Linked DNA regions of Homo sapiens. The protein of the gene in region 2 purifies or fractionates together with the protein of the main gene of each other region. This does not show direct contact. Each region holds a gene or a part of one and is shown on either strand. Other genes may lie near its edges.

What was found. The genes of interacting proteins can lie anywhere in the genome.
Region 1: the proteins of BANF2 (region 2) and STK39 purify together in Homo sapiens (affinity purification with mass spectrometry; one large-scale study listed by BioGRID and IntAct). This does not show direct contact.

The regions. Positions count from the first base shown.
Region 1 is NC_000002.12:168,237,336-168,241,409, forward strand, and holds part of STK39 (STE20/SPS1-related proline-alanine-rich protein kinase), read right to left. Parts: intron 1-4,074. UniProt on the Homo sapiens protein: Effector serine/threonine-protein kinase component of the WNK-SPAK/OSR1 kinase cascade, which is involved in various processes, such as ion transport, response to hypertonic stress and blood pressure.
Region 2 is NC_000020.11:17,702,535-17,706,608, reverse strand, and holds part of BANF2 (barrier-to-autointegration factor-like protein), read right to left. Parts: intron 1-4,074. UniProt on the Homo sapiens protein: May play a role in BANF1 regulation and influence tissue-specific roles of BANF1.

The DNA.
Region 1 (4,074 bases), on a different chromosome or scaffold from region 2:
GATTTTGGGCTGAGACAATGGGGTTTTCTAGATACACAGTCATGTCATCTGCAAACAGGGACAATTTGACTTCCTCTTTTCCTAACTGAATACCCTTTATTTCCTTCTCCTGCCTGATTGCCCTGGCCAGAACTTCCAACACTATGTTGAATAGGAGTGGTGAGAGAGTGCATCCCTGTCTTGTGCCAGTTTTCAAAGGGAATGCTTCCAGTTTTTGCCCATTCAGTATGATATTGGCTGTGGGTCTGTCATAGATAGCTCTTATTATTTTGAGATACGTCCCATCAATACCTAATTTATTGAGAGTTTTTAGCATGAAGGGTTGGAGCCTGGGATTCTAAGGACTTTGGGACCATAGGCAAGTTTCTTCAACTTTGGCCATTAGAGAGTTTTCAGTTACAAGACAAAGCAGCTGGGATGGATTTTTTTTCCTTTGGTCTCTTCTAAAATTAAATTTCCTAATTCTCTCTATATTCTTGTACCACTTCTCACTTAGGAACTCACTTATAAAAACCAGCCATGACCTGCCATTCCTTCCCCAGGAAACCCCGTCTGCTGCTCCTCTTCCTTTGCTTTCTTGAGTCACCCCATAATTAAACAAACAGAGATAGTGACATTGCCTGAGAGAAAGAAAGAGAACCAGATGATTCAAATTAAAATCTAAGCTACACAGGATAGGTCAATAGGCACCAACCTACCCAAAATGTAATCCTTTTTCAATCCCCAGACTAAACAGAGTAGGAAATAAAGCAGTTGGAATACCCTTAGTACAAACTCTGGTTCAAACTGATGCAACCAGTTCAAAACAAAATCATTACTTCTTCTAAGACCCCAACCATCCACAGAATGATTATGAGAAGTCTCACAACTGTCACAGGTCACTGGCTCCAAAATACTCCCTGAATGAAGATCTATCATTCACAGGGCAGAAAGTCATCCACCTCTACTTTCCATCTAGTTTTTTCTGACAAATAGCTCCAGTGGTAACTAAAAGTTAGAAACCTAAACCCATAAATGTCAATAAAATGTATATTTTTTACCTAAGGGAAGAATCACATGAGCACCCCCAATACTAGGCTTCTGAGAGTTATACTAAATGCCACTTACCTGGAAGAAGTTTGAAAATAAAGTCAGGGATAATATGAATGTAGAGGTCTCTACCATTTCTATCTTAAAATGTTTTCCCATATATCAAAATACACAATCAGTTTAAAAGGTCAATTAATCTCAATCCTCAATGTCCAAGAAGTTTCTTAAAGCTAAGCCAGAGTTTATTCTCAAATAACTGTTTGGCAAGTGAGAAGAAATGTGAAACATATCATTTACTCACATCGGATTCCAAAGTATTTATCTAAATCGACTCTAGAAATAAAGTATGCCAATCCATTCTCTAAAGGATTTTTCTCTTCTGCTTTTCAGTTAAGCCAAGTCTGAAATGACTTTTTAATTAATATATTGAATTCTTGTCTAGTATCAAAAACTTGGCCAATTGATGGCAGATAGGGAAAAAAGAAACACTTGAATCACTTCAACTAAGAGCTGTTTTGGTATAATCTAAACACAACTATCCTAGAGGAAAACGTATGACTTCACATGATTACATGGAGAATTTTATTTAAATAGGAAAAAAAAACTTTCCCAAAAAGTACACTGTAAAGGAATTATAACATCTATTAGAATGACCCGGTTCTATGGTCTTAGCAGGTACCACAGCCATCCTATCATGTCAGTCCCTTATAAGTTATAAAAATAGAACTCCTGCCATCCTAACAACCTTTGAAAGCCACTTGTTCTGCAATTCTGCTCCTGTGTTTCACCTGCATCCCTGATCGTCTCCAGCAGCCCTGATTCCTACACAGGAAGAGGCTCCACAGAACTTCAAGGTGAGTGTTATATATAAATACATGAACAGCAAGAGAGAGAGATCACTGATATACAAAAGAAAAGAAAGCTCTAGAGCTTTTGAAGGGCAGTGTGGGACTTCCCCACTCCACCCTACAATGTCTACGGATGCCAGAACTGTGGCAGGGAGCTCTGGGTCCTTTAATCCAGCCAGAAAGGCCACCTCTCAGTCCTAAGACCTCAGGAGAGCCAGGCCTCTGCCTGCCTACCTCCACAACACAGGCAGGTGGACGCACTCAAAGTGCTTACTCTTGATCTGTGAGGATTAATGAGCTAATTTCTACAGAGCCCTTTAAGCTGATTGGCCCAAACGCAACTAAATAAACCCCATCATTAACCACGGGCAAGATCAAATCCTCAGGATCCAGTGAGGCAAATTTTTAGACGTCAGGCAATGTTCCTCCTCCACAAGGTGAGGAAGGAGTATTTATCCCCAAAACTCAGAACTTCATCCAGAAAACATTTATTAAATATCTATTATGACATGCAGGGTAGGGAGATGAGAGACCCTGTCCTCAAGGAAGACTTAACAGTCTAGAGCCAGGCTGGCAAGGAAAATACAATTTGCAGATAGTGTGACAACTGCCAGGGAGCGAAAGACCCAACAGAGCCTGAAGGGCAAGGGGGGAGGGGGGCTCTAGAGGCAGAGATTGTTTGTGTGACAAGAAATCACTTGTTCAGGGTATGAGAAGAGAGGCCCAGTCAGGGTGCTGGTTACATGGTGTGTTCAATTCATGAACATGCACCAAGATATACATTTTTTATATGTACACTTTTCCACATGCATATTATACTTCAATAAGGGCAATATTTAAAAGAAAAGACAGAGCTCTTTGCTACATAGATGAAAAATGGAAGGGAAGGGTCTTGGAATGGTGTTCCAAGCAGAGGGAAATCTTGCCTAGAAGAGGCATTTCAGCAACTGCAAAAGGTTCCCACTGGCTGGAGAGTCTGTCCTGAGACTGGAAATTACAAGATGTGGCTGAAAAGGGAGGCAAGAGACAATTCCCAAAAGACCTTAAACACTGTGCTTCAAATTAAGTCTTGAGGGTGACGGGAGAGCTACTAAAGGCATTTCAGCCTGGGAGCAACGTGATCAAGAATTTTGGTATAGCAGTATCTTTCTGGTAGCAATGCACACTACAGCCAGAAACAAGAATGGAAAAAAGGAACCTGGTTAGGAAATTATTACAATAATCCAAATAAGAATCGATAAGGGCCTGAACTAAACCAGTGGTGGCTGACATGAAGAGTCAGAGTCAAATCAAAGAAGATCTCAAGGAGGTGGAGTATTTAGGACTTGGTGACCAAACAGATGTGAGAGATGGACAAAGACAGGAAAGTATAGGATGGCCAGCAGGTTTTGCCCTTGAGGGCTCTAAAGATGATGAATATAGAAGAAACAAGATTAGGACTGAGGCCAGGGTGGAGAGACAATGAGTTTAACTGTATGAAGTTCCTGTGAAACATTCAAACGAAGACATTAAAAAGGTAGTCCAAACACTGGTATACAGTCAGGAAGACCCTCAGCATTTGATGTGGTAATTGAAGCTTCAGACAGACAGAGATGTGGATCTGGGGCAGGCAAGGGAGTACAGGAAGTCCAGAAGGAAGGCATGGCATGGAAGCTCAAGCAAATGCCTTTCCAAAAGGAGAATGAAAGATGGCACCTAACCCTGCAGAGAGCAGAGAAAAGGACTGCAGTGTCCACTGGCTCTGGCCACAGAAGAGTCACAGTGATTTCAGAGAGTAACTTGGGTTTCTTAGGGAAAGGGCAGAAGCCAGACTGCAGTGGGCTGAGAGGGAATGGGAGGTTCCTTCCAACAATTTAGCAGTGAAAGGAAGAAACGAGATAACCGAGTAGCCAGAGGAGAAAGAAGTAGGGAGAGTGTTTTGTTTTGTTCTCTTTTGTCATTTAAACATAAGAGACAGGCTTGAGAATATTTATAAACTGAGGGAAAAGCAAAGAGGGAAAGAAGGAGACAGGGAAGCAATGGTGATGACTTTATCTGAAAATGAAGGCCTCTGTCCTCGCACTGGCTGGGACACACAGGGAGCGTTTCTTTTAGTCAGCAGCATTTCCTGCCAGCATGGCAGCCTCCGGGCAAACTCAGAGGTGGAGGAAAAGTGCAGTCCTAGCAGGTTGTTCTCGGAGCCCTCTCATAATGGGCT
Region 2 (4,074 bases):
TGGGCTAGGTGTCTTGCTAATTCACAGACATCTTATTTAATCCTCACGACAAAGCTATGATGTAGGAACATATCTGAGCCCCATTTGCCAGATGAGGAAATGGGGGCTTAGACAGTTTAGTAACATGCCCAAGATCATATACTTGGCGAAGAGAAGAGCCAGAGCTTGAATCCTTCGTGTTAAGCTCATACCTGTGAGTTCAGCCAACTAACCAACAGCTACTTTTTTCTTCTTGATCTATATGGGTCATGATAATCCCCAAGCCGGGTCACTGAGTGGCTTAGAATGAGCTCATATGAAGTGCCCAGGTGAATGAGGGTCTCAAAGGTAATGTTGCTATAACAATCACCCTCACGTCAGCACACCCCAGCCCTGACCCACAATCTCTCCCTGGATTTAAAGTGTGTACTTGGCTCTAGGAACCTTCACCCTTCAGCCTGGCACACTTGGTGTCTGTCTGTGCTGACTCTCCGGATTTGGCCAACCTTCAAGCCCCTTCAACCTCATCTATGCCGTCACCTTGCCAGTTGGGTGGCTGCGTTTTCCTAAGTACAGACCCATGTGGTTTTCTGCACCTCTCAATAGTTCCCTCAGGCATGCAGCAGTGAGGGGCATGTCCCAGGCAGGGGTTGGGCACTTTGGGTGCCCATGGGCCCTCACAGGAGCAGTGCCATAGAAGCCCACAAACCCTTATGCAGGGATATGTGGGAGAAAGGAAAACACACAGACTCCAGACAGCAGGAACACAACCAGGAGGACAGGGCTGCCCTGAGGTACAAAGAGATGCTTCTGCACAGCATGAAGTATGCCTCAACATAGCATCTGGGGTAATCCCAGCATGAACTAGTTGCATAACCTTGCCCAAATCACTTTCCCTTCTTGGCCTTAGTTGCTTCATCTATAAAATGGGGAGGAATAGAGTTAGGTTACTAATTTTCCAAACAATAGTCCCTAGGCCTCCCCCCATTCTCAGGGATTCACAATGTACACCAGCCTATTTACGGCTTTGAAAAGTCCTGTAAAGCTAGGGAACTACTGACCTGGCCTAGCCCATTATCTTTTACCTTTCCTAGACCAGACAGCCTTTTAAGTAACATCAGTTAGCTTCCCTTGAACCAGTGTTCTGTGGAACATGCGTTGGCTAATTTTCAAGATTCTTCTGGTGCTAAAGATCTTTAATTCGACAGCCCCTGAGTCTGTGCTAGGGATTGGGAGGCCTGGTTAGCTGTGGGCCCTCTGGAATTTATGAGGCTCCCGCCCTCTGTTTTCTCAGCCATCACACAAGGACTTCAACACCTGTTCTCATGATCAATTGGGACAATTTTTTAGCTTTCTAACTGCTCTCCCTTCTCTCCAATTTTACATGGAGAATCACCTCTTCCTGCTTTCATCCAATGTGGCTTGGGTGGGGCCAGTCTCCCACTTGGCTCCAGGGACACACATGACCAGGCCTCGCCAATGAGGTAACAACACACATGACCAGGCCTGGCCAGTGAGGTAACAACACACATGACCAGGCCTGGCCAGTGAGGTAACAACACACATGACCAGGCCTGGCCAATGAGGTAACACATCCTCCTGGCCACAGTGACTGCATCATTGTGGACACGCGACCTCAGCTGGGCCAGCCAGACAGAATCCTGGCACTTTTGCCAGAAAGATTAGGCAAGAAGTGGTGCCCCCTTCTTGCTGGGGTTGCTAAGTGAGTGTTCGTCTCTCCTTCCACTTGTGGGGGATCCTGTCAGAGCGATCCTGGCAATGCAGAACTGGAGATGGTGACAAGTAGTTTCTTGACAACATCATTTGAGGGCCTAGATACAGCCAGTCCTGAAGCCATATGTGCTCCAATCAATCCTTTGCCTTTTAACTAGTTTGAGTTTAGTTTCTAATCCTAACTGAAAGAGACCCATTCCACCAATTTTACAAGGGACACAATGATAATTAAATGTTAAAGAAGGAAGAGGCCTTAAAGGCTGATAAAGCAATGCATGAGAAGTGCTTGGGAGGTAGGATGGGACAGTTACCCTATGTGGGCACAAGCCCAGATGCCTGGGAAGAAGGGACCGATCATGTAGACCTCAGCAACAGTGGGTAATGCTTAACCCAAAGAAGTGCTGTCCACTCTAGAAGTGGAATTGAGGGCCCTGCAATGTCAAACCTAAGCATAGGCTCAGTCCTGATAGGATGCATTCTAATACAGCCTTGCTACTCCACGTGCAGCCTGTGGGCCTGCAGCTTTGACGTCTCTTGGAGTTTGTTAGGAATGCAGAATCTCAGGCTCCACTCCAGACCTACTAAATCTGCATCTTAACTAGACCCCAGATGGCCCATGTGCATGATCAAAGTTGAGAAGCACTACCACAGCACTGTTGAAGTGACTGTGTAGCGTGTCCATAGACCCCTTCCTGCTGGTATGAACATCCTGCCCACCCACCAGGAAGTGGACAGTTTCCCCTCCCCTTTTATCTGGGCTCTCGCCCTATGGCTTAGTTAGCCCGGTAGAAGGTGATAAAAATGGTGCTGCCAGTTCTGGGCCTGGCAGCCTCTGCTTCCTCTCTCAGAAGCCAGCTGGGGACAGTGGTTCACACCTGTAATCCCAGCACTTTGTGAGGCCGAGGCAGAGGCCTGAGGTCAGGAGTTTGAGATCAGCCTGGCCAACATGGTGAAATCCCATCTCTACTAAAAACACAAAAATTAGCTGGGCATTGTGGCAGGCACCTGCAATCCCAGCTACTCAGGAGGCTGAGGCAGGAGAATCGCTTGAACCCAGGATTGGGAGGCGGAGGTTGCAGTGAGCCAAGATCACACCACTGCACTCCAGCCTGGGCAACAGAGCAAGACACTGTCAAAAAAAAAAAAAAAAAAAAAGTCAGCCTACTTGCCCTGAGACCTCCATGCTGTAAGAAAACCCAGACAAACCGCATAGAGATGTTTCTTGGAGAGCCCAAAAGTCCCAGCTGTGTGAGTGAGGCCTTCTTGGGCCACCCTGTCCAGCCTAGCCCCCAGCTGAGTGACCCTCAGTGACACAATGTGGAACTGAGTCCTGCTCACATTCCAGACCCAGAGAATTGGAAGAAATACGAATCTTTGCTGTTCTAGGCCGCTGTGCTCATGTTATTTTGTCACACAGCAGAAGTTACTGGGGCCATGACCGCCTTTCCTCCTCACTGAAGGAGGGGGCTGTCCTGCAGAATGTTCACACACTGTAAGCACCATACTGAGCACTTTCTGCCTCTCAGGCGCTGTTCCAGGCACAGAGATGGAGTGGGAGAGGGCAGACTGCATCCCTGCTCTGGTGAAACTGGGATTTTTATCCAGGGATAGGGCAGTAGACAAGAAAACACACAAACGTAACTTCAGAGAGATAAGGAGCAATTGGAATGGGGCTGGGGACACAATTAGGTAGAATAGGGAAGATCTTTCTGAAGACACACACTTGATCTGAGGCCCTCCTGTTGAACAGGGGCAAACCATAAAATGATCAGAGGAAAAAGTGATGCCGGCAGAGAGAACAGCAAATGCAAAAATCAAAAAGCACAGGAGGTCTGGGAGTGAAGGCAGAGGGAAAGGGAAAGCCAGGAGAGGGGAATGAGATCAGAGATGAAGTCACAAAAGTCAGCAGGGCCCAGAGCAGCAGCGTCTAGCACACCGCCACCAGCCACCGATGGCTATGTAATCTAAGCTTCCATTTAAACAACAAGCGCAGCTCCTCAGTCCCACTGGCCACATCCCAAGTGCCCAGTGGCCCTGTGTGCCTAGTGGCTATCATATGAGACAACACAGAGACAGAATATTCCCGTGACGGTTCTGTTGGCTGAGATGGCTATAGAATAACTCAGAAGCAGATCAGAACCAGGGTTCAAGGTCAGACCATGTGTTCTTGGGCTTAGTATTCCATTAAATTTCTGAAGGTTCCAGTTTTCCCCAGGGTTAAATGAGGCTTTTCCAGCCCAACAGTGGGTCCAAATTATCCACAGCAAGAAGCCAAGTCCACAAACAGTTGCACACGGGTCCTATCCAAGGAGCATCAGCAAGGCCTCATCCATGGAAACTGGCAGCAGAGGTCTGTGTAAC